Linked DNA regions of Homo sapiens. The protein of the gene in region 3 purifies or fractionates together with the protein of the main gene of each other region. This does not show direct contact. Each region holds a gene or a part of one and is shown on either strand. Other genes may lie near its edges. The genes, in order: PPM1H, MYEF2, RAB35 and DTD2.

The links.
Region 1: the proteins of RAB35 (region 3) and PPM1H purify together in Homo sapiens (co-immunoprecipitation; one study listed by IntAct). This does not show direct contact.
Region 2: the proteins of RAB35 (region 3) and MYEF2 fractionate together in Homo sapiens (co-fractionation; one large-scale study listed by BioGRID). This does not show direct contact.
Region 4: the proteins of RAB35 (region 3) and DTD2 fractionate together in Homo sapiens (co-fractionation; one large-scale study listed by BioGRID). This does not show direct contact.

What each region holds. Positions count from the first base shown.
Region 1 is NC_000012.12:62,689,932-62,695,279, forward strand, and holds part of PPM1H (protein phosphatase 1H), read right to left. Parts: intron 4,069-5,348; coding exon 4,005-4,068; intron 1-4,004. UniProt on the Homo sapiens protein: Dephosphorylates CDKN1B at 'Thr-187', thus removing a signal for proteasomal degradation.
Region 2 is NC_000015.10:48,167,180-48,172,527, forward strand, and holds part of MYEF2 (myelin expression factor 2), read right to left. Parts: intron 1,661-5,348; coding exon 1,452-1,660; intron 223-1,451; coding exon 170-222; intron 1-169. UniProt on the Homo sapiens protein: Transcriptional repressor of the myelin basic protein gene (MBP). Binds to the proximal MB1 element 5'-TTGTCC-3' of the MBP promoter. Its binding to MB1 and function are inhibited by PURA.
Region 3 is NC_000012.12:120,098,833-120,104,180, forward strand, and holds part of RAB35 (ras-related protein Rab-35), read right to left. Parts: intron 5,118-5,348; coding exon 4,994-5,117; intron 323-4,993; coding exon 198-322; intron 104-197; coding exon 1-103. UniProt on the Homo sapiens protein: The small GTPases Rab are key regulators of intracellular membrane trafficking, from the formation of transport vesicles to their fusion with membranes.
Region 4 is NC_000014.9:31,450,470-31,455,817, forward strand, and holds part of DTD2 (D-aminoacyl-tRNA deacylase 2), read right to left. Parts: intron 2,876-5,348; coding exon 2,806-2,875; intron 2,415-2,805; exon of another isoform or gene 1,638-2,414; intron 1-1,637. UniProt on the Homo sapiens protein: Deacylates mischarged D-aminoacyl-tRNAs. Also deacylates mischarged glycyl-tRNA(Ala), protecting cells against glycine mischarging by AlaRS. Probably acts by rejecting L-amino acids from its binding site rather than specific recognition of D-amino acids.

The DNA.
Region 1 (5,348 bases), about 57 Mb from region 3:
GGCCCCTTGCTGCTAACATACGTGGATAGCTCTTACCAAGAAAGGGCTCACCAAAATCACTTCTGTATTTGAGGAGTGCTTTTTCTATCCATTATCTTAAGCTTGACAGGTTGCTGCTGTTTCTTTTCAGCTTTCTTTTTTTGGAGACTGGAAGGAAGGATGTCCAATAAACTAACTCCAATGCATGCGTGACGTCTACAGCTGCAGAAATCAGTTCATATCAAACCCAATAGGATTGATCGATCCATCCATCCATCCATCCATCCATCCACCCACCCATCCACACACCCACCAATCTTTCTGTTACATATCCACTGTACAAGTATTTGCTCAACACCAGCTATGTCCTTAGTCCTGTGATATGTACTAGTAAAAGGTGTAAAAAATCAGAAATAGCTCTTGCCCTCCCAGAGTTCACCTATTATGTTTTATGGCTGGAGAAAAGAAACTTATCAACTCTATAACCTATCCTGCTAAGATCTCCACAAATTCCCTCTGGGTGGAAAGGAACAAAATGTCACCAGTGCTGTGACATAGCTACACAGAGGCCTCAGGGCTGAGACCTCATCCTGAACTGTTTTTGAATGGTGTAAGGAAGTAACACTATTACACCAATGCCTACACAGTCAGCTTAAATATCTCCTGTTATGCTGAAGATCTGATTTACCCAAACATTTATTGGGTGCCTACTATGTACTTACATCATATGTTGGGGACACAAATGTCTAAGGCCTCGTCCCTACTACAAAGAAACTTGGGGCCACGTGCGGTGGCTCTTGCCTGTAATCCCAGCACTTTGGGAGGCTGAGGCAGGTGGATCACTTGAGGTCAGGAGTTTGAGACCAGCCTGGCTGACATGGTGAAACCCCATCTCTACGAAAAATACAAAATTTAGCTAGGCATGGTGGTGGGCACCTGTAATCCCAGCTGCTTGGAGGCTGAGGCATGAGAATCACTTGAACCTGGAAGGTGGAGGTTGCAGTGAATTGAGATCATGCCACTGCAGTCTAGCCTGGGTGACACAGTGAGACTCAGTCTCAAACCAACAAACAAACAAATAAAAAAACCAAAAAGAAACTTGGTAAGGGAGATAAGAGGGAGATGTGTAATTAATAACACATAAAATATGGTTAAGTACTGAAAAACACATAGACAATGGGTTATGCAAGTTTAGAGGAGGTAAAAATTCTACTGAGAAGGCTCCACGGAGGAGGTGGCACTTAGCACAGAAAGGTGGATTGCATCAAGACAGGCGACACAGAGGGATGGAGTGAAAGTCATCCTGGGTGGAAGAAAGCAGTGTCCTAACCCTTAATCATAAAAAATATATCCGGTGTAGTGAAATGGTTCAAAGACCTGAGCTTGAATCCTCACTCTATTACCTGGGTGATAAGAGTAATTACCTCCTATGAGTGGGGATGAAGTAAATAAATGCTAAGAAACACTGCAATTTAATATATTGTCTTCATCTTCATCCTAGACTGTCAACAGGGCTGTGAATTTTGAAGCCAGCCTTGGTTCGGAAGGTAGGCAGAGTTCACATTAAGCAGAAATGAAACCATGACACCTTTTTGAGGGCAAGGGTCAGAGGGGATAAAGACACGAGACACAGCCAGACACAGTAGCTCACATGTGTAATCCCAGCACTTTGGGAGGCCAAGGCAGGAGGATCACTTGAGCCCAGGAGTTTGAGACTAGCCAGGGCAATGTGGTAAAACCTCCTGACTACAAAAAATACAAAAATTAGCCAGTGTGGTGGCATGCGCCTGTAGTCCCAGCTACTCAGGAGGCTGAAGTGGGAGGATCACCTGATCCTGGGATGTCGAGCCTGAAGTGAGCCGAGATTGTGCCACCGTACTCCAGCCTGATGCCATGTCTCAAAAAAAAAAAAAAAAAGTGATGCAAAGCAAAGCCTGGGGCCCTCTGCCCTGCTGGGAGGCTGGACTGGCTCCCTTCTAGCCAAGAAGTGCTCAACTCTAAATGTGAAAAATTCTGAGTCCCTTGTGGCTCTCCTGCTCTCCTCCCTGAAATGGCGGCTTCTCTGTGTGCTCTTTCCAGCCAAAGAAATCTGATGTTTCTGCTAGTGACTGACCTTGTTTACGAAGTATCCAGGTGTTACCCACACCAGTCTTTAAAAGCATCTGAAGAAAGAAAATGAGAAGTAATGGCCACAGAAGTACTCTGAAATTTCTGCGTAGGGGTACGCGGAGAAGAAAGAGAAAATCCCAGTCCAGGATCTAGAAGGAGCTCCAAGAACTCATGGAGTCCTCAGAAAGGGGTGGTATCTACCAACAAAAGCAAAATGGAGACATGGTGGCTTTTAAATAGGCCAACAGGTACACGGACAGAACTTGCCACCTGCCCATCGCAAGACCATCAAGCTTAAATTACCTGAAATGCTTGAGGAACATGATGTTTTGGTGAATTGAACTTTATACTAAAATTAGAAAACTCTTGCTCCTTCAAATCTTACTGCTATAAACTTCCAAGAATACATCATTCCATTTTCCTATTGTACTAAGGAAAGTATACTGAACATAACTGAACAGCTTATTTAATACTTATGCATTTATGTCAGGTACCAGGCTAGACAGGAACTAGAGATACAGGGGTAACAGAATGTGTTCCTGAGTTTACTGGAACTCACTGGATATTAAAGGGTAATACAGAGAATCTCAGCCCCACAAAGAAATGGAGCTGCAGGCATAGGTCATTGGGCTGAATGATACTCATTAATGGTGCCCATTGTACCAAAAGGCACAAATATTTATATCAGAACAGTGCCTATTAGCCCTGACACGATTCTTAACCAGAGACTGTGATCTGAAAGGTGTTCATTTTCATGAATGGGGTATGTTCGTTTAAAAAATGATTCCTACATGGATCAGATATTTGTGTTTGGTATTCCTCCTTCTGTTGAGATGTCTTTTTGCATTGAAATCACTGCTGGTCTACACGGAGCCCAAAACCTAACCATGTTTGTTCTCTTGCTTTTGCTCTGACACACACACACACACACACACACACACACACTCTGCCCATGGAAGGCATCCTTTGGTTTTCTTCTGAGTCATTTCTTCTTGATAAAAACTATCGTATCGAATGCTGGAAAAATTATCAGTTGAAGACTCTTCTCAATGTGACCACATTTTTCACTTGGAATGCTTCACACCGAGTTGAAATGTATTAGTGTTCCGAGGAAGAATGCAATGATTCAGAAGGTGTTTGTTCTTACTAGGAAATAGATTCCAAGCTTCTTGCTCTCCACTCCAGGATTTCAACCTCCTCCAGGCCTCTGCTCAGAGACCACTTTAGGATCCACAGCTTTTCTTTGGTTCGACAACGTGCTGTTCAGTGCTGGATTCTGACTGGAACCCTGGGAGCTGATGATGGTCTTTGTTATCTTAGTCTGGACTCTGGTTGCTGTGACCTTATAGTCTAATTACAGTGACGCTTTGGACTCTCTTCCATGGGGCAAGTGGCAAACAGACTTGCAAAGTCTGGACTTCCATGGTGGAGTCTGAGACGCGCGAAGCAGACAGAAAGCCAAGGCACCACATCCGCAGCTGCCCCTCGCTTGGCTGCGTGATCTGCCTGAGCTGTTTTAACCTCACAGTCCCAGCTGCCTCGTCTGCCAGATGGATATAACACAGCCAGCTTGACCTGCCTCCTTGCTCGTTGTCAGATATAAATGAGATGATGTGTGTGAAAGTGGTTCATGTTTAAACACTGTAAAAAGTTATTCAAATGGATTGGGAAGGGGGACTTTATTTTCACAAAATTGGCTTGAGTCCCTTGTGCTCACCGCCCACCTCCCACCCCCACTACTCCTTGGACCCTGAAGACAGGAGGCCTGAAGGATGATGGATGGGATATGCTTTCAAGCTGTCAAGGCTATAAAATCACAAGCTGCTGAGTGGAACACACGGACTGCCACGGGCTATGTGGAGCGAAGGCGGGACAGAGCCCTGTCCTCTCTACCCAGGGGAAGCACACGTGCCTACCTTCTTGCCTTCTCCATATATAAGGGGGAACTTCAAGTCCTCATCCTCAATGGTTTTGTATGCCCTGTAGGGGATAAACAACATTTTAAAAAAGGTTTGCACTCAATTAGTGACCTGCTGCCCTGACACCGACTGCTAGGGATTTCATTTTCCCTGAGACCCCATCCACTCACCACACTGACTACCTCTTCCTTTATAGGGAGTTGTTCTCCCTACAGAATTGTGTGTGTGTGTCTTTTACCAAACCAGAAAATACTGTCTTTATATGCTTGAAGAGGGAGGAAATAAGTTGGCATATGCATAATTAGCAAAAAGGGGAGATGGGTTTCTGGCCTTAGGGTCTGTGTAATAATGAAGTGACCCAGCAACAGTATTCTCATCACGAATCCAAAACTGTGAGAAACAGCAGAGCTCAGAGATGAATGGAGTGTGAAACTGCTTCGAGAGCCAGTTCTCACCTTCAGGGGTTGTTTATACCAAAACAGCCTTGTATTGGGATGGCTAGGGAAGAAATCTTTCGAGCCTGTTTGTCCTCTATATAATATGCAAGGTTGGTAAAACATTCTTTGTTTCACAATAGCTTTTAAATAGCCACTCAATACACAGAAAGAACCTTCAGTTTATGCCTCAATGGTTTATTCCAGATAGGGTTCTCCAGTGCCACAGCCTGCACAGCGGAGGCGGGTAAGATGAAAGGGACAGAGCTGATGAAGACCATGTCTTGCAATTTTGCTTATAACCAAGTTAAAAAACAAACAAGCGAACAAACAACTGTTAGCCCAGTTACAGCTGTTTATCACCTTGAGCATGTAGCTTCACCTTTTTCAGTCTCAGTTTCCTCATCTGTACAATGAGGCTAATACACAGGATACAAAGAGCTCAGTACAGAGCCTGCACTTAGTAAGAGCCCACTTAGTGGCAGTTATTACTAATACTTAGTAGATAATTAACACTTACGTGGCATACCGGTTCCCCTTTCTGCAAAATGGGGATAACACTGCTCATAACTTCAAAGTTATTTAAAAGACTAAGTAAAAGATAGGGTAGGTTCTGCTGAATTAGGTGCTATAAGTAGATGCTTTTCTACAACAACATCTCCTGAGTGCATTAAAAATCCTAATTTATTAAATGGCCTGCCATTCCTGGACATATCTAGGCTGCTTGGGAGTGAGTCTGAAATCAAATTTATGGAAGCTCTTGAGGTACAAAAGAATGTAACTAAATTTAAAAAGCATGCAACCCCAAAGTTAAAGCAGGTCCATCCTCAGAAAGTTACATGGTAAGGTGTCCTTCCCATGGGGTGGAGAATCAGTGAGGTTTTGGCACCAGATGTGCCTGAGCTGG
Region 2 (5,348 bases), on a different chromosome or scaffold from region 3:
GCTAGGTTTGTATAAGTGTCAGACTTGCTGGTATAGAGCCTCAAATCTTGCATAATAAAGTAAAACAAAATGAAACTTAAGTTTCCAAAAACTGGTACAAGTATTATACAAAAAGTAAACTGCTGAGGAACTTTTAAACCTCAAGCAGATTATTGCCCACAGCACTTACCCTTGATTTTCCTTCCGCATCCTTAAAGAGCTCCACGTATGTAACCTCACCAACTACATAAGACATACAAAAGGAAGATACCAAGAAACAATACATTTAAACACCAGTATCTTGCTTTACTGCACACCTGTGCACAACTCTACAGAGAAGCACCTATTATTCACCAACAATCAAAACCAGACCAACATACCTCCTATCAATGGCTATGTAAATTTAACTAATTTTCAGAAATGTACATCATCCACATTCTCTAAAAAAAAGCTAACAACCATATTAACCTAATTCATACTACAGATCATATTTTGGCCAGCATGATATAGTTGGTGAACAAATGCACATATACATACAAATGGTCCCTTAACCTATCATATTAAAAAACATCAACATTAGCACTTTTCAAATAACTTTGGTCAGCCTACACACAACAGCTGTTTTAAGGTGACTTTCTACCTGAATGTCTTCAATCATGTTTGCCATCAGTAAACTAAATTTACAAATCATGCTTCACAGCAAGCCACACACTTTCTAAATAAAGTCAATGAATAAAACCAATCAAATAGTTGTCACCTTACAACAGATACACCAATGCAATTTAAAAAAAAAAATTTATTAGAAGAGATCAGCCTCAAAGCCAAGTACATAGTTTGCAGGACTGTTGAAACTCAATTTTTCAAGAGATAACAAAACTAACTTTTACAAGATCAAGTATTAAAATTATTTTTCCCCAAAACCAACCATGTATATAAGATGAAGGTTTTCAGATTATTCTGAAAACAAAACTGCAACAGCAGTAATGCAATTTTAATTTAGAACTGCAAAGACAGCATCATGGCAGTCATGACAATGCAAACAAAATAAATTCCACAGCCAGATTCCAGACTCCACCAAGATAGTAACAAAACAGCTTTTGGAAAAAAAATAAATAATCAGACCTTATTATTCATTCTTAACACGCTAAATGTATTGCTTAACTAATGCAATAGCCCTTTTAAAATCTATAAAAACTTCAACTAGACAAAGCAATCACTTTAACAAAATTCTTGGTGGCATGCATATGCTGGCTCGCTACTATCCCACTAAAATGGCAAAAAGAAAAATATCCATACTACCTTGTAATGAAATTGTGTCAAGAGAAAGAAGAGGAAAAGATTAATTCACATGTCAAGAAATAAAAATCAATTTTTTGAGTCTGTGTGGCTCAGAGGAATAAAAATGTTTGTGTAGTTCCCTCCCCTGCCTATATGAAGATTATCCAACAGTGGGTTATTTCAGAGATAGTTACCTTTCTCTCTCATTAGATCTTTAATAGCTTGCCATTTCATGTCATATGGGATGTTGCTAATGAAAACTCTGTTACGATTTGGACCCTTCTTTTCTCCAGCGCCCGAATTCTTGTCTTTTGAATAAGGATGAAATCTATTGGCCTTCTTACTTCCTGTAGATTTTTCCTTTAAGTCAGATTTCTCTTCTTTTGCTGATTCATCATTCTCCCTGTGAATTAAAAAAAGTCAAACAAACAAAAACCCTCAGTTGTGCTTATAAGAATGGAAGTCTATATTAAATAAGTATTCCATATTTATCACCTCACAAAACTCTCCACTAAGCTAGACCTCAGCAAAGTAGCTGGAGAATCAGCCTGAGAGCTTTGAAATTACCCAATGCTATTTCAAAGCAAGGATTTGGTTTCTCATTTAACAGTCCTCATTTTTTTCCCACATTAAATAGTTGTAAGCATCCAAACAATCACCCAGTTTTTCCCATCACACTACTTAATTAATAAATGCTATTAGACTGGAACAGAGGGAAGAGCAGATAATTTTACTTCTAAGGTATCTAAAACTGCCACCTTTGATGGAGAATTAACTTTCTGGGCATCATTAAAAACTTTTTTAAAAACTAACTTACACAGTGATACTCTGAAAAAGTTCATCTCTTAAAGGTTAATAGTTTCTTCTCAGAACTTTCTCCTCCCTTAATTAGAAGCATAATTAAAATACAAAGTTATGTATATAAATCCACATCTATATATGAATATACTCACATTAAGACTCTCAAACTTTCTTCTATTCCCAATTTTGATCAACACAGAAAACTTATAAAGTATCCTAATATTTTATGTTACATTTTAACCTATAAACTAGAATAGGGTACTTCATCAAATTATGCAGTTTCATTAATATTACCTACAATGGGTAATGTAGGACAGAAGCAGTACATAAAAGCAACGTAAGCCAAAATTTTATAAACCTGATTTTTTTTTTTTTTTTGAGACGGAGTTTTGCTCTGTCACCCAGGCTGGAGTGCAGTGGTGCAATCTCGACTCACTGCAACCTCCGCCTCCCAGGTCCAAGCAATTCTCTGCCTTAGCCTCCTGAGCAGCTGGGATTACAGGTGCCCACCACCATGCCCAGCTAATTTTTTGTATTTTTAGTAGAGACGGGGTTTCATCATCTTGGCCAGGCTGATCTTGAACTCCTGACCTCGTGATCCACTCACCTCGCCTCCCAAAGTGCTGGGATTACAGGCGTGAGCCACCACGCCTGGCCAAACCTGATTTTTAATGAGGCCTTAACTAGAAAAAAAAGTAATTTATAATACCGTAATCACAATGCAACTCTATGATGTCATATGCCAACCATCCAAAAGATGTAGGCATACACTTAAACCCTACAGATAAAAATTTGGATTTCTATTTTAAAATGCAATTTACTTTTCAAAACAAGTCTTTTTTACAGCACAAACAATAGGGTTTTTTGTGGGGGTTTTTGTTGCTGTTGTTGTTGTTGTTGTTGTTTGAGATACAGTCTCATTCTGTCACCCAGGCTGGAGTACAGTGGCAAGATCTCGGCTCACTGCAATCTCCGCCTCCTGGGTTCAAGGAATTCTCCTTCCTCAGCCTCCCAAGTAGCTGGAATTACAGGTGTCTGCCACTACACCCAGCTAATTTTTGTATTTTTAGTAGAGACAGGGTTTCACCATGTTGGCCAGGCTGGTCTCAAACTCCTGACCTCTGGTGATCCACCCGCCTCGGCCTCCCAAAGTGCTGGGATTACAGGTGTGAGCCACCGTGCCCGGCCAATAGATTTCTTATTTAAATAAGTGCTCTAGTCAATTTAAAACTATTTTAATAACAAAACTTCAATTTTAAAGCAATTTTTCACAAACATTACTAATAATATCACTGTGGATGACACCCAGGAATCTAAATTTTTTTTAAAGCTTTCTGGATTATTCTGACAACAAACCAAGTTTCATGAGCCAGGCTCTAAATTATCTTCTAAGCCCAGCAATTCTGGTGATCCACACATTGCAATGCTCCACACACCTCTAACTGCAGTCATTTGTTACATAATATATACAGAGCTTCTTGAACACTACTCTTCTTTGTAGGTAACACAGCCATAAATATAGTATGTAAACTCTATGAGAACAAAAACTATCTGCTTTGGTATCAGCAGCACCTCGCACGGTGACTGCATATAACATTGTGCTATAATTTTTTAATGAATTAACAGTCAATTAAGAATCCATACTCATCTGAGCACAGATGTTGCCAGAAAAACTGCTAGAATAAAGAAAGAGACATTTGGACCAAACTTGCTTTGCCATTTTTTTTAGACCTTAAAAAGGACATCTTCACTATCAAACATATTCCTTCATCAGAAATGGCATGGCCTAGGGGGGAGTCTTCTCAACTGTCTAAATCTAGAAAGTACCTACCTGTCTAAACAGAGTGACACTTTTGAAAATGGCAGCAAGCAGCCAAAAGGCACAAAGGCCTTTTCTCTGGTTTCTGAGTACCGCAGATAGAAGAACAAACCTTTCTTTTCAATTCCCAAAGGGCCTGTTTACATAATAGGCTTAGATGAATTCAGTGAATGTTTGTAAAGTAACTAAGACTCTATTCAGTAAGCAGATATCTATATAGTCTCTAGATTAATACCCCTTCCCCTGCCTATTTTCTTCCTGGATTAAACCAATTGTGAAAATTACACAAAGTTCTGAAGTACTTACAATGTTCTATTCTTGACTTAGGTGGGGTTACATAGATTAAATATTTGCTTACAACAATCTGAAAATTCCATTAAAAACAGTAACATTATATATAATATTTTCTTTAAAATATTTACTCAAAGATGATCAGAGAAAGTAAATTTCTTCATTTTTCCCCCATAAGAAGCATCTTAAAAATACTGCTAAACTGCTCATCTATGATGTAGAATTAAAATTTATCTTAAGTTTCTTCCCAGTGTATAACAAAAAAAGAAAAAAAACTATAAAAGGCATAACAGTTGAGAGGCTACAGGGATGATCTAATTATTAAGAAACTGAGCCATAATTATATAATTTCTGAACTATTTCCAAGTCATAAATACTTTGGAAGAGAAAGTAAAAATATATGTGAAAACTCTTAAGGAAATGATGCTACATAATTCCAAAATATTGGTACTACATCCAGAATTCCAAGTACTAAATTCCCAAACTGTTCATTTAGACAACCACTCCCACAATGTACTTAAAATAAAAACCCTAAAATAGTCATAAAAATGTTATCTATTCTTAAAATTGAACTATGCGTATCTAAATTATAACATACATTTCTGAAAAAAATCAAGCTCCAACATCAAAAGAAGAAACATAGTTTTAATGTGTGATTTTAAAAGTATAATGGTGTAGTATGAGATCCAATATTAATCCCAGTTCCAGAGGAAAACTACCAGAGGGCAGTTCAGAGCAGTAAATGTCTACATTAAGAAAAACGACCTCCAGGCCAGGTGCAGTGGCTCACATCTGTAATCCCGGCACTTTGGGAGGCCAAGGCAGGTGGGTGACTTGAGGTCAGGAGTTCGAGATGAACCTGGCCAACATGGTGAAACCCCGTCTCTACTAAAAATACAAAAATTAGCCAGACGTAGTGATGCATGCCTGTAATCCCAGCTGCTTGGGAGGCTGAGGCAGGAGATTCACCTGAACCCAGGAGGCAGAGGTTGCAGTGAGCCAAGATCACACCATTGCACATTTTTTTTTTGATACAGAGCAAGACTCTGTATCAAAAAAAAAAAAAAGAATAAAGATCTCCAACAACCTAACTTTACACCTCAAGGAACTAGAAAAAAGAGCTCAGTCCAAACTTAGTAGAAAGAAGAAAATAATGAAAATCAGGGCAAAAATAAATGAA
Region 3 (5,348 bases):
TTGGCGCTGGTCTCGAACAACTGGATGCCCATCTGCCCGGCGAATTTGTAGGCATCTTCCGTCTCCACCACCTTCCGCTCAGGGTCGTCATTCTTATTACCCACTTCAAACGAAGGCAGAGTCAGCGCAGCCCTGAGGGGCGCAGCCGGCTGCCTCTCTCCCACCCAACCCCGACCCGGCCCTGAGTGCAGCCTCACCTAATATTCGGCACACATCATCACAGTTCTGGTTGATTTCGTGAAGCCACCGCTTGACGTTGACAAAGGACTCGGCACTGGTGACGTCGTAAACCACAATGACCCCGTGGGTCCCCCGATAATACCTGCAGGGCCAGAGTGTGCGGCAGCATGTCAACCCCGACAGGAGTCACCCCCTTGCCGGGACCCACCTGCCCACGTCAGGACACTGACCCGGAAAAGGTGAGGGTGGCCCTGGAGCCTGGGCTCTCACTCAGCCTCGGCAGATGCCCCCGAGCCACAACAGGCCAGCAGGAGAGGCTACTGCGGCAGCACTGACTCCCCCTGCCCGCCCGGGGCACCAACAGGGCGGGAGGGCCAGCCCCTGGGCAGCAGAGCAGGTCTGAGGAGTCACCTCCTGCTGTTCAGAGTCTGCTGCAGGCTTGAAACATCTTTGAAGTTCTTGCTTTATTTTGGGAAATCAGGCAGTTTTTGTATTTGACATCATGTTATCACTGTCTTTGAACATTCAAAAAAATATTTGCTCCTCAAACCTGTTTTAGAGAACCTTTCCAAGAAGCCACACCATCATGACGCCCTGGCAAAGTCTGTGCCCCTCCCCTGGGGCAGGTAGGCACCTCCCTTCCTGCTACTCTTGGCTCATCTGTGCAGGTGGCAGGAAAAGCATGGAAGCCACACAAGCATCCAGGGATGGCTGGGGAGAGGGCGCCCAGCAAAGCCATCACCCCAAACATGCAGAGCCCAGGGCCAGCCAGGAAGGCCAGAAGGAAGGGGAGGCCCAACTCTCCTCTCCAGACCCCATGTCCCCATTCATCCCAGTGGCACAGGACGACATCAATCCCCGGAGGAGGAGGGGGACCACAGCCTCCGCTTCCCCGAGAGCTGTCGAAGAGCCGGAGGCCAGGCGGCAGCCCCGCCCCACACTGTGCAATCAGCCAGAGCTGTCCCTCTGTCCCCTCTCCCCAAAGCCGCAGGGACCTCCACCCCAGGGCTCCTCAGGACAGCACACAGACAAACCATGAGTGGACAGGCCGCTTCCTCCCGGCTTTCTGGCTGCCACCTGCCCCAGCCCTAATTACCTCCACCCCCATGAGGTTCATGGGGACAGCCCAAGCCCCAGTTCAGGAACAGCCCAAGTCAGCGCAGGCTGAGCAAGAATGGGGCAGCCAGGCTGACTTGTGGCTGCAGCTCCATTCCTGTCCACCTGCCCATCAGCTCTCTGGCCAATGCTTCACATCTGAGGCCCGATCTAAGGACAAAGACCAACCCTGGCTCCATCTCTGAAAGGCTGGCCCTTGGGAAGGTGCCTGCATTCACCCTGCCACACCTTGCAGCTTCAACAGTTATAGCACACAGGTGGCTAGTCCTTAACTGGGGTGGTCATGAGGAAGAAAGGAGCTAAGCATTACCCCAAGGCGGGGGAGCAGTAAACAGTCAGTATGCGTTCTTCAGCATCATCAATGTGCCTTCAAGGACAATCTGTGGTCCCAGACAGAGGTGGTGGAAGGAAACCAACAGGCAGCTTAGGGGCAGCCCTGAGCATCTTCCCTGATGCTGCAGAGCCAGAGCTCCTGCCCAGCCCTGGGACAAAGCCCAACCTGCCCCTGCCACCGCCCCTGCCCCATCCTTGCTCCATCCTCAACACGACCGCTGGGATCTCTTCCCAGGGCTTCATTCTGCCCACAGCTTTGCTTCCAGGGCAGCGTCGCTCCTTGGCTTCGGGGTAGCTGTGACGATCAAGCTCTCTTGGCACTGGGCCCAAGAACTAGCTCTGGCCTTGGCAGCTGCTGCTGAGAGCGCCGGGTCAGCACATGGCATGGTGTGTCAGACGCCTTCCAGAGCGAGGGCGCGCCGGAGCCACAGGAACAGGCGACTGTCCCCTGCCAGCAGAGGAAGCCCAAGGAGCGGATGGCTCTGCAGACTCTCCTTTGCTGAAGATGATCAGAGATGCCAAGAAACGCCTGCAGCCATGGCCCCGGCGCACAGCCCCCGCGGCTCCCTGGGCGCCTCTGCCTCATCCGGGGCCCAGGAAAGGGGCTTTATCTGAGAGCAGAGAATTTGTCTGGGGATGAAGTCAGGGGCTCAGAGCTCTGGCTAGGAGGAACCGGAGCACCGACGTTTCCCATGGCCACCAGGAATCACCTTCACTCACAGGGACTCTGCTCTAGGCCAGGCACAGAGCTGGGGGCTTGGTATCCATTACCTTATTAATGTCTGCAGCCACCTGATCCAGCAGACCTCAGGATGGCCATGTGACCAGCAAGGACGTGAGGCTGAGTGCAGCGGCCAGCTGGAAGTCCTGGCGCCCAGGGCTGACTCCCAGGCCCAACGCCAGGGCCTTGCCTTCCTTGTCACTTCTCCCCTCACCTCCATCCCACCCGCACCTCTCAGGGCCGGCAAACCTCAGCTTCTGAGAGCAAGAACCCGAGAAGGGGTGACCACAAGGCTTTTTCTCGCCAGGCTAACAGGATGCAGTTTCAGTTTCTCTCTGAACGCCCTGCATCGGAAAAAAGTCACGCTACTGCATCCTGACTGCCCTATTCCTGAAAACTCCTCACCTCCCCAAAACTCCTTCCTTCTTTGCCAGTGACCATCAAAGGGCGTCGAGACTTCCAGTGGCCCCTCAGGGCGCCCTGCTGGGCCTCCTGCCTCATGAGGGCCAGAGCGGGACTCTAAGATGGAGCCACCTGTCTGCTTCCCCAGACACGTGGGACGGCAGCAGGGGCCCAGCCGCTGCCCACAGGCCGCCCCTTCCCAAGCCCCTGGGGAAAAACCCATGTTGCTCCCAGGAAGCTGAGTGACTCCTCCCCGCCTCCCCACGGAATGGAGGAACCAGTTCACCTTCTTCCCGCTCTGCCCAGCCCAGAAAGCAGCTGACTGCATGATGGCAGGGAGGGGCTGTGGCTCCTCCTGCTGAAAGAGCCTCGGACCCCCCAGGCCCCACTGCCCTGCCCAGGAGTTCATTCCTCATGGCCACGGGCCTCTGAACCTCTGCCACCCTGAACCTCCGCCTGGTTTTAAGGCACAGGACGGGGCAGGAAGGCAGGGGCGCCACCTGCCCAGTCGATGCAGGGCCTCGGCAGACTCAGGGCCAACCCTGAGTGCCCCCAACCTCTGCCCCACTGAGTTAGGAGGCTTCATCCTCCCTGGGCCTGTTTTCCTGTCCATAAAATGGAGATAGTCACAGGTCTCTCTACCGGGATTAACCAAAATAAAGCAGCTGAAATCCTAGCGACAGGACCAACCCAGAGCAAGGATTCATGAGGTCAGCGCCCAGACCAGCCAACGGCATGAGGGCTTGCCTCGCCTGGGCCTGCAGCCCCAGGCTGCCCAAAGCACTGATGCCAGCCCTGCCCCAGTGTCCTCCGCAGATTCTCACTGGCAGCTGCCAAGACATGCAGGCCACAGAGCCCTCGCTCACAGGGCTCATCAACGGTCACCACACAGCACCACACCAGGGCGACCCCGGGACTGGGAGCTCCCAGGGATTCCGGGCATCACGGGCCACAGCACAAATGTGCTCAGCATAGGGTGAACCCAGTGACAAGCCCTCCGCCTTGGCTCCAGCCCCAGGAGCTGCTCGCCCAGCACACCTGTCCCTCTCCAGCAGCCCTGCTCTCCCCCATACTCCCAGCCATCCATGGGGGCGCTGCACCCCACACTTCCCACCCTCGGGAGATGCCGAGGGGCCCGGGGGCAGGGGCAGCCAGCCTGGGGAGTGCCGGGCTTTCATGCTGTGGGAAGGAAGGGGGCCGCTGGCTGGGACTTCCTCATTCGCCTTCCTGAGGTCACTTCCAGAGGAGCTGCTCGAGAGAGCCAAGGAGGTGCCCGTGGAGCCAGACAGCCGCCCCTCACTCTGCACAGGCCACTGTGTGGAGCACAGGCTTGGCCGCTGGGAGGGACCCCTCCAGGGCGCCCTCTGTCAAATGGGATGACAGCAGCACCAAGCACACAGAGCTGCCAGACACCACACCCCGGCACGCACGTTGACGCCTGCAGCAGAGCACCTGGCACCCTCCACATGGAAGCCAATCCCAGAGGCAGGCCCTCCAGGAAACGAGCGCAGAGAGCTTCGGCAACTTGCCTAAGGACACACAGCCCAACAGCTCCAAATCGGCCCCTTCAGACCCTGCTCTTTCCTAAAACCTGCTCCACTAACAACCCAATAACCAGGAGCCGCTCCGAAGGACACTGCCCATCTGCGCAGGAGCCCAGCTTCCCCCCGGCCTGCAGCTCAGCCACAAAGGTGGGCAACCGGTGGGCGGCCGGATTTCCCAGGAACAGCTTTAAGGGTAGGGAAGGGCCTGCTGACATGCACCGTGTTCGTCTCTAGACAGCGTCACTTCCAAGGCATCAGTGCAGGTGACGGGAGCCTGCACAGGCCAACTCCAGCTGCCATAACTGACACCTACCAAGAGGAATTGTCAGCGACTAAGTCCTGGGTGGGCAAGGCACTTCGCAACCCCCTAGCGAGGCAAATGCTATTCTGCTCTCTCTGTAAGGTGACGGCACAGTGGGCCGGAGGGTCGGCTGACTCTCCAAGGAGATAGAACATGGCCACTGTCCGGCCAGACTCCAGCCAGGGTGCTCAGCGACTCCCCCACAGCACCCCCCTCACATCTTCAGGACCAGGAAGGGTGCAGCCAAACGCCACCTACTACAGCCAACAACAGGCTCACTTCCCGACAGCCTCAGGGACCCACCAGTGACATTTCCACCATGACCAGGCACCGGTCGCTCAACTGTGTCCACAGGTCAGTGGCGCGGGTTGGGTGGGAGTGGGCGTGTGGACTCACGTGGAGGTGATGGTGCGGAAGCGCTCCTGCCCCGCTGTGTCCCAGATCTGCAGCTTCACCTTCTCCCCGTTGATCTCCACGGTCCGGATCTTGAAATCCACTCCGATCGTGGTGATGTAGCTGCCTGCACACACAGGGCAGTTAACGAGGCCCAGCGCGGTATCTTCCCAGGCCCTGAGCCCCACGCTGCACACAACACACCCCCAGGCTCCCCCACCCTCCCGACTCATTACATGTGCCTGGTACATTCTAGGTCCCAGGGACACAGCCCTGAACATCCTTGTTCACAAGGCCCCTCCACACACAAGTGAAGGAGGGAGACAGGATGCAAGCAAACAAACAAAGAGGACAATTT
Region 4 (5,348 bases), on a different chromosome or scaffold from region 3:
ATTTCAGATTTTGCAGATTTAACTGGTTATTATATTCTCAAGTGATATATGCTTTGATTGGAAATATCTGAATCTATGTAATAAATATGAGGTGAGGCTTAAGAGAATCCCACCACATTGACTTACTTAGCCTGCTGGAATAGAGGGAAGTACAAGCTAATACTATTAATAATAGATGGACTTACTTTGCTTACAACTCAAACGAGTAGAATATGATTCTTAGAGTCATATATTTCTTTACTGAAAATCATGATATAAAAAATCATGTGTTAGATAGTGTCAGACCATCCACAAGAGTCAGGGTGGACCTCCTCAGTGTTTTAAATTCACTACAATCTTATGCATGTATTTAAAGTGAACTCACAAAGACAGATATGGAAGCACACAGGATTTAATCACTATAAAATAACATGTGGTTTGGATATGATAGGCATATTTCATCCTATTATGATGAAGAACCATTTGAGAATTCATAAGACAACTTTATGAAGTCAATCTTAAGTCAGAATGACAAATACTTTCTTCCTGTTTTTGAAGATTTCTACATTTTTTATGGACCAAAAAAGATTTAATCCAAGGCAAAATATTAATTTAGGAAAGTGGACAGAATGTGTAACACTCCAGCATTAGGATCTGACAATTATTCTCTGTAATAGGAGTCCTCATTACATTATGTTCTTTTTTTTTTTTTTTTTTGAGATGGAGTCTCCCTCTGTCGCCCAGGCTGGAGTGCAGTGGCGTGATCTCGGCTCACTGCAAACTCCACCTCCTGGGCTCATGCCATTCTCCTGCCTCAGCCTCCCGAGTAGCTGGGACTACAGGCGCCCACCACCACACCCGGCTAATTTTTTTGTATTTTTAGTAGAGACGGGGTTTCACCATGTTAGCCAGGATGGTCTTGATCTCCTGACCTCGTGATCTGCCCACCTAGGCCTCTCAAAGTGCTGGGATTACAGGCGTGAGCCACCGCGCCTGGCCTCTCTCTCTCTCTCTTTTTTTTTCTTTCTTCTTCAGACCAGAACATTATGCTCTTAACCCATCAGAGGTTCCTTATTATCTTCTGGATTCAAATTTCAAACTATTGCAGTTACTGGCTTTCCATTCTCACCTAGCATAGTCTCTTAAGTCTGGTTTTCATCTTTTGACAAAGTTGTCAGACATGTTTGATATGTCAGTATAAAATTCCCTCTAGGAGTTTTAGCTTTTTGTCTAAGCTCTTCCTCATTGGCCTATTTGCCCTTGAAGCTCTTCTAGGTTTTCTGTAAGCTTCAACTGCCCATTTGTATAATTAATATTTCTTATTAATCCAACTTATTAATGGATGCTGTCCTTTACTAATGAGGAGAATACAACCTGTTCCCAACCTTAAGGATAGCTTTTCTTTCAAGTTTGTATGTATGTTTGTTTGTGGATATAATCTTTATATCCAAATACTGTCCTGAGAGGGTATGATTTGATTTGGTATATCTGAACCTATGTAATTATCACATGAATTGCTATAGCTATGTGAGATAGTGTATATATACATATCACTATACAGTGCTATAGCCCGTCCAGGAAACCAGAAAGCTGCAGGTAGGTAAATTACTATTCAGAGATCCCTAACATTGACTCTGTTTTCCATGTCCTTGGAGGAGGTGTGGCTGTGATGACACTGAATTCAGCTCAAGACCCAGGAGAACCTTACATCTATTCTTATTTCCACAAGGAAGTGCACACATGGCTAATGCAAATTCTTCCATAATAATGATATAAACTTGAGTTGTCCAGGTTTGATGAGACCCACATCTTGTATATACAGTGTCATCTACTGCCTCTGTTAGGGGCTCTAGGGGATAAAGGAAACTATATTAAGAAATGCAGCATCTGTTTCTCCCTGTGTGACCACCCTACTTCCAAGAAGTTTCTGTATCCTTGGCTGAAGTGCACTGTGTGTATGTGTATGTGTGTACACTCTTCTACATCAATCTGTAAGTCACTGAAATGCTGCAGATGTTTTAAAAAAATTCCACCATACTTGCTTACTTTAAACTTTGAAACAGGCAAATAGCTAAGGCCAATAACACTAGATAGAATTAAGTAATTAATAATTTAACAGCACAATTTAACATTGTGCTTCTTAGGATGGGCAGGGATTGGTTAATGGATACAAAATTATAGCTAGATAGGAGGAATGAGTTCTGGTGTTCTGGAGCACTGTAGGATGAATATGGCTAACTATAATTTATTGTATACTGTCAAAAGTCTAGAAGAAAGGATTTTAAATGTTCACAACACAAATAATAAATTTTTGAGATAATGCATATCTGGTTTGATTGTTATACATTGTATACAGTATTAAAATATCACTATGTATCCCATGAATATGTAAAATTATTATTTATTATTTTAAAAATAAAAGGGGAGGAAAGAGATTGTGCTTTTTGTCCCTTCGGGTTCATTTGTCTATTACTATTCTTTCTCACTCTCTTTTTTTTTTTTTTTTTGAGACAGGGTCTCACTCTGTTGCCCAGGCTGGAGTGCAGTGGCACCATCTCGGCTCACTGCAGCCTCGACCTCCTGGCCTCAAGTAATCTTCCAGCCTCAGCCTCCTAAGTAGCTAGGACCATAGGCACAGGTCACCGTACCCAGCTACTTTTGTTTATTTTTTGTAGAGAAGAGGTCTTACTATGTTGCCCAGGCTGGCTTCTAACTCCTGGGTTCAAGTAATCCACTTGCCTTGGCCTCCCAACGTGTTGGGATTACAGGTGTGAGCACCATGCTTGGCCTCTCACTCTTAAAAAAGAAACAAAGTCAAACACATACCCATTTTGGGAAGAAGTTCTTTATCAGCTCCCTTGAAAAAGCACACGTAGATCACCAGTCCTCTTTGGACCTATGAGAAATCACCACAGTAAACTCAGATTACAACAATATCTGTAAAGATACAGGGCTAAATGGGTACAGTTTCACAACTATTAATATTATAGACATAGAGGTTAAAAGCACAGAAAATGAACTTTACAAAAGATTTCTCATGTGAGAAAACAAAATATTTTTCAATTTTCAATCATCTCAGTTATTTCTTTCAAATTTAAGTTTAAAATATACCCAAGAGCAGTGAAGACAAGTTATACCTTCAAACATTTATTTCTAATCAAAATCATTAAGAGGATCAACCAGCCTTTTCTCAAGTAAGGGTGACAGACTTAGAAACATTTCGTTTGCTGGGCCCCATTTATTCAATGCCAAGTGAATTCACATTATACCAGATACAGCTGATGGATAAACAACATGTGACTGATATCTTTTGACATCATCTCTCTTTATTTCCCCTAATCCATTTACTTACAAATAATGAAAATAAGGGTCTGATTCTATTTCTATAAGCTCCAGGAAACTGTCCAATTATTTGTTGTTGTTGTTGTTATTGTTGTTAATGCTTTATATAAACATGATTAGGACTTGAAAACTGCATTTGTGATAGTAAATTCTACATTAAAAGGTTGGTTGTTATCAGGAATATAGGCTTATTTATTTTACATAATGGCTTGGATATTTCTTAGATCTTGTAGGACAGAGACTATACAGAAAAGAGACATTTGAATAGTGACTTTGATTCTGCTTCTGAGTGAATCATTAGATTTTTTTGATTCTGTAAATTAATCTTGACTCCAGGAGCTATTAGGAAGATTAAATGAGTTAACATTTGTAAAGTACTTAAACACAGTGCCTGGTTCATAGTAAGTGCTATATTAGTGTTTATTAAATGAGTATGTAAAAATAAATTTAAGGGCAGAGGCACAATTTATTTCACATTTTAACTTCCAAAGCACTTTACAGGCTGTTTTGTACACGATAGGGATTCAGTTTATCTGTTGATTGCATTAACATTCAACTATATGTTCCAGGCTCTATGCGTTATCCAAAGAATTTTCTAGATAAATGTAAATGCAGCTCTGCACTCACACGTGATTTACCTGGAAAAGAAGTGAGTTTTAAAAAGTACAATCGTGCTACTGAAACAATAGGCAAGGGCCTCCAATGCATACCCACGAGAAGCTGGCAAGTTATTATAGGTATTTGCACTACTGTCACAGGCCTCTCCACTAGTATTGTTTTCATCATGAATCGAAATCTTAAGCATATTTATATTTGGACACATGCAATGTCAGAAATAAATACCTAATCATTTGCAGAACGATACCTGTTCTTTCCACTAACATTATCTCCTCATTAAGGTCTTTGCCTTTCATTTATTCCATAATAGATGTTAAGCTGTGACTTCAAGTCAAAAATCACTTTCCTTATAACTTCTTTGGTATAAAACATTTCAAATATATAGAAAAATACAGATAATTCTCACTGTAGCTTTAAAAAGTTCACTTACCAGGAACAAAAACATTAGTCTGTGACAGCAAAGTTCTAAATGAATGAAACTAAGAACAAGCAAAGAAAGTAACCTTCAAATCTTGACAATTAAAATGCTGTTTCTAAAAAAACAAGAACTTTTAATAATAGAACAGGGTAGAGAATATGTAAGAAGAAAGAATTTACATTTTCTCACCATCTAAATTACTTGTCAGCTCTTTAAACTAATTTAGTTATGTGTGTAGGAGTGAAAGGGAAAGCCTTTAAAATAGTTTTTAAGTTTATAAACACAAACTGATAGTTTGGATGCCAGCAATAAAATACATGTGATTTTGCATAAGGAGATGTAGCCTGAACAACATAAAAAAGATAAATAAGCATGGAAGGAAACTAAATGACTGATAGTTTGCAATTATAGTGTCTGGATGCAACTATAAAAATGGATAATTCGGCCGGGCACGGTGGCTCAAGCCTGCAATACCAGCACTTTGGGAGGCCGAGGTGGGCGGACCACAAGGTCAGGAGATCGAGACCATCCTGGCTAGCACGGTGAAACTCCGTCTCTAGTAAAAATACAACAAATTAGCCAGGCGTGGTGGTGGGCGCCTGTGGTCCCAGCTGCTTGGGAGGCTGAGGCAGGAGAATGGCGTGAACCCGGGAGGCGGAGGTTGCAGTGAGCCGAGATTGCGCCATTGCACTCCAGCCTGGGTGACAGAGTGAGACTCTGTCTCAAAAAAAAAAAAAAAAAAAGGATAATTATTTTATTTATTATTTATTTTTGAGATGAGGTTTCACTCTGTGGCTCAGGCTGGAGTGCAGTGGCGTGATCTTGGCTCACTACAACCTCTGCCTCCCGGATTCAAGAGATTCTCCTGCCTCAGCCTCCCGAGTAGCTGGGATTACAGGTGCCCGCCACCAAGCCCGGCTAATTTTTGTATTTTTAGTAGAGACGGGATTTCAACATGTTGGCCAGGCTGGTCTCAAACTCCTGACCTCAA